Linked DNA regions of Homo sapiens: region 1 is linked to region 2. Evidence: fine-mapped expression QTL. A gene starts in region 2. The other region holds a variant in brackets. All regions are shown on one strand. Distances are from middle to middle. Region 1 overlaps FAT4 (FAT atypical cadherin 4). Region 2 holds the start of FAT4 (FAT atypical cadherin 4).

Region 1 (2,500 bases), 72 kb before region 2:
TCTGCATTTTAACAAATTCTTAAGGATGCTCAAAAGTAAATGCAGAATAAAACATCAAGTTAAAATATGTGTGGTTGCATAAGAAACTTATGGAAATTTTTATACTATTCTTCAAAACAAACACCCTACAAATGCGTCCTGTAGTATATTTTTCAATAGATGTTAATCTGAATGTGGTAGACACATATCAAAGGGAAATTTTAGTATAAAACAAACAAACAAAAAATGCCACTAAATTTTTTCTTCTCTTTTTTTGCCTAATGTGTACTGGATACTATGAAATAAAGAAGGCTTCTATTCAAACTACTGAAAAATAAAGAAGTGGTTTGATTTCTATTAAAGGTACAAACTACGGTAGACTGAATTATTGGTCCCGTTACCCCTCCCCATAAACAACTTTGCAGTCCCTCCCACTAAAGGTGAGATTTTTCTCCTTGCCTTTTTTGGGCTCTTTCATAATATTTGGATTGGACAATGGGCTATCTATAAAAATAGCACAAGAAGGGGCTTAAAATACACTTATTCTTTTCTACCTCTGCCATGGTCACTAGAACAGTATGTTTCTGCTAGCCCACTACTACCAGAAAGACTAGAGATACTGAGTAGAGGAATCTCAGCTGGAAGGTTTTTAGACTGAAGCCAAGCTTCCTAGTTGAGTCTAGCCTAGAGAAGCCCAACTGCAGTTATCCAGAAATGTGTGAGGATAAAAGTGAATTTTTGTAGGCCTTTGAGATTTTTGTGGCTCTTTATTATGCAACATTATTCTGGCAGTAGCTAACAGATACAAAAGCCAAAACAATGAATTCATTAACTGGTTATTTTACTTTGTTTCCATGTTCTAAATAATTACTGGTCTAACATGAGCAGCACAAAGAAGAGTAAAAAGCTAATGTATATTGATCTGTTGTATGGCTTGTACTGGGAGTTTTATTTCTCTGAATCTATTAATACCTTTTCCTACCCTATATAGCTA[C/T]ACATTCTCACTTACCATGCCATACTGCTATCTGTCAGGGGCAACTCAAAATAATACATATCAAGTTCTTCCTCCCCCTCCAACAATCCAAAGATTAGAGGAGTGGTGGGAATACATGATCCAAGAGGAACGAATCATAGATTGGGGAGAGTTCATCAGATTGTGTTTTTTTAAGAATAGAAAATTTAAACAAACAAAAACAAAACAAAAACACAAAGAACATTGCAAGAACAAAATAATGGCACAAGTACAATAAGAAACAATGCAGCCCCCATGATAACATGGTCGCCATCTTTAGTGGTTTTCTAGAACCTACACGAGACTTGGCTATAGTTCTTTTATGGAATGACTGCAATGTCAAAATAATCACTCTTCCTCATTTCACATTTGCATAGTAGTCTTCACCTTTGCAGACATTTCTATTCTTTGATGCAAAAGACACAAACCTTTGACTCATAGCTATGCTATTCTATTTCAGTTGGTTATTAGTCTATAACAGGGGTCTCCAACCCCTGGGCACAGACCGGTACTGGTTTGTGGCCTGTTAGGAACCCGGCCCATAGCAGCAGGTGAGGGGCGGGCAAGTGAGCGTTACTGCCTGAGCTCTGCCTCCTGTCAGATCAGCTGCGGCATTAGATTCTCAAAGAAGGGTGGACCCTATTGTGAATGGTGCATGCGAAGGATCTAGGTTGCACGCTCTTTATGAGAATCTAATGCCTGATGGCCTGAGGTGGAACACTTTCATCCCAAAACCACCCTCCCACCCAGTATGTGGAAAAATGTCTTTCACCAAACTGGTCCCTGGTACCAAAAAGTTTGGGGACCACTGGTCTATAATAGTTATATGTCCTTATATCTTTTAAACAGCTATCTTAAACTATAAAATTAAAGTCTCTTTCTAGAGTCTTGTGTTGTATTTTTACTTCAAAACAATAACAAATTTAATTTATATGAAACAGCTTTAGCTCACTAATAAACAGTAATGAATAAAATTTTATGTGATATAAATTGTAAAGTATATGTTCTAAAGAAATTCAACTTATCAAAATCAATTTTTTGGAAATGCATTGTTCTTTAATTCTATTTAGACATCCTATTTTTCTAAACTCAGGGCCAGGTGCAGTGGCTCACACCTATAATCCCAGCACTTTGGGAGGCCAAGGTAGGTGGATTACTTGAGGTCAGGAGTTTGAGACCAGCCAGGCCAACATGATGAAACCCTGTCTCTACTAAAAATACAAAAATTAGCCAGGTGTGCACCTGTAATCCCAGCTACTCAGGAGGCTGAGGCAGGAGAATCACTTGAACCCCAGAGGTGGAGGTTGCAGTAAGCCGAGATGGTGCCACTGCACTCAAGCCTGGGCAACAGAGTGAGAATCCGCCTCAAAAAAATCAAAACAAAACAAAACAAAACTCAGAAAGCCTGCTTCTTTTCTAAGTTTCAAACAGTGAAACATTTAGATCAGTTTCAATATAACGCCTAGGGTACAGAAGGCATTTAATGTACATTTATTCAATGATGTAAAA
Region 2 (2,500 bases):
ATGACAGTAGCCAAAACACTCGAAGGAGCTGAGATACTGATAGAGTGTGCAACGGGAGCCACGGGCGGCCAGTAGCCCTGTCTGGTGCTAAGTCCATGGTCCTGGCTCCCTAAAACGATGTGATAAAGAGAAGGAAGGGGTGAAGCAAACGCAATGATATTTACAGGGATTAAGGAGCGCCAGCAAAGATTCAGCTGACGGCTTGGTCTGAGACCTCTGCTATTTCAAAGAACCTCCAGTCCGGCAAAAGCAAGTAGCATCAGCAAAAGACTCTAGGTAGCCAGTTGAACGCGGAGTGCAAGAGAGATGCTGTGGCGAAAAGCGGCAGGGCATTCCGCGGGACACTCCTGTGAGCTGAGTTCCCAGAAAAGTTTCTCAAGCCTCTTATATATGCCCCCTTTTACTTTGTTTTTGAATCCAGATAGTCTGAGCGTTTTCACCCGGGTGGATGAGAGTTGGGAGAAGTTGCCTGTATCTAAGGTATATGAGGAATCATTGCAAAGAACGGTCTTCAGAAACTTTAGAACTTACCCGCAGCGAAGAACGTGAAGAGGGAGGAACAAACGTCCAAGCACAACTGCGCACCGGGGAAGGGGTGGTGGGGAACCGGGAGAATCGAATTTCTTTCCCAAAAGCTGGAGGCGATGGAATTCCTGGAGTCCCCACTCCTCAAAAACCAGGCTGCAACGCCCCTCCAACAGGGCGCCGGCAGTGGCCGCTGAGGCCCAGGCGGCGGCGTCTGCGCGCAGGCAGTTCGGGAACTGCGTTCCAAGCGCTAGCGTTCGCGCTCTGGCTCCCGTACCCGGGAGCGCTCAACTCTGCCCCTTCCCCTCCTGCAGCCGCCGCCGCCGCCGCCCCTGTTGCGGCTTCAAGCCCGTGGTCCGGCACAAACAACAGCCAGGGCTCCTCGGCATTTTTCACCTCTGCCGGGGCGCCTGCCGACCCATTATTTGTACATCCAAATCGAACGCAGTTTCCCCTTTCTTCTCGGCCTCGCAGGGGTCGGGCAGAAACAGCGTGCGGTCCCCGAGTCGCCCTCCCCTCACCATGCCAGGGGGGGTCGTTCTCCGGCGGCCCCAGTCAGAAGCCCACTCTAGCGCGCCTCGCCCCTGCCCTCGCTATCTCTGCTTTTATTGTCCCGTGTCAGTTTCACTTTGTAATCCACAAGGCTTTTTGTTTGGGGCGGGGGGTGGTTGATGCCTCTCTCTCCTTCACAGTTGGCAGCGGAGGCGGCGAAGTCGGCGCTGGGCTGTAGTGACGCCCTCCGCAGCTCCGGACGGCGCCTGTCAGCGCTCTCCCTCTCGCCGGCCGGGGCCGAAGGTTGGACTGCGGTGGAGCTAGGGCTCCGCGAGCCCTTCTCCACCTCCCGCCTGGTCCCTCACACTCTCCCCGCCCCTTCCCCGCCGCACAGGCATGCACACACACACACATACACACGCACACACACACACACAGCGCGTCGCCGAAACACAAACAGAGGGGGAGGGAAGACCGCGAGCTGGAGCAGCACTCAGAAACTTTGCTCGACACTCATTGATCCCCGCACTTTAGTTCGCCTGGACTCCCCCTAGCTCCCAGTCCTGTCACCTTCTGCCCCTCCCTCGCCCCAGCCCCATTGGGCCGGAGCTGAAGCAGCCCCGACCGGCACTCCTACCGCGAGCGCCCTCCGCCTTGCCCGGCCTCCGACTGGCTTCTCGGGATGCTAATCACTTCAGCCTCCCGGAGGGCTGTAGGCGGTCTGGTGTGGGAGCACAGCGAGGCGGAGGCGCTAAAAAGGGGGGTGATTTTTTTTCTTTTCTTTTTTTTTTTTTTTTTTCCTTTTCGGCCAAATCTTGGCCGGCGTCAGAGCAATAACAGCAAAAGGCTGCCGCAGAATAGATGGGGGTGGGGTCAGGTTTGCAGATAAATAACTTTAGTGGCAGGGTCTGGGGGAAGACCGTTAGGTTGTTATGCTAGTAATAACTCAGGGGTAAGGGGGTCGAGAGAAATAAAAGAAAGGCGGGGGGTGAGGGTCTGTTAAAGCGGGGAGGAAGGATTAAGCAAAGCCTGTCTGGGAATGCACAGTGCAGATTTGCTTTAACCATTTCCTGCCCCTTCTCTCTTTATGCAAGGGATAGAGCTGCCATACAGTGTGATCCCACAGAATCCAAATCAAATCCTCCCCTTTGCTCCTCTTTCTACACAGTGGGCTCCCTGCTGTCTAGGGCGAGCTAAACTCTAAATCTTCACTCACTTGCCCCTCTCCCCCACCTTCCAGGTGACTAGGGGGCAGGAGGCCTCCGTAGCAAGGGCACTTTGGACTTCCTACTATAGGAAAGGCCAGGGGAACTCAGTGTTTGTTTTGTTTTCTTTCCCAACTGGATTCCAGGTGCCAGTAGCCCAAACCTTAGGGTTTCAACAACAATAATAATGGCAGCCCTTTGAAAAGAGGGAGATCTTTTCCTGTTGCAAAGTTAGTTTGGAATTTTGATCCCTGATGGAGTATTTCCACCTCCACATT

What was found.
Region 1: its variant is fine-mapped to the expression of FAT4 in blood mononuclear cells (TOPMed, PIP above 0.99).

What each region holds. Positions count from the first base shown.
Region 1 is chr4:125,386,154-125,388,653 of GRCh38, reverse strand. The region is part of intron 2 of FAT4 (FAT atypical cadherin 4); the gene reads right to left. Among named protein-coding and RNA genes, the nearest start is that of FAT4, 72 kb to the right of the region's middle. The variant C/T (reference allele first, on the strand shown) is at 974.
Region 2 is chr4:125,314,009-125,316,508 of GRCh38, reverse strand. It overlaps FAT4 (FAT atypical cadherin 4), which reads right to left and starts at 1,554. Exons shown (of 18, transcript NM_001291303.3): 1 at 532-1,554; 2 at 1-109. The coding sequence starts at 97.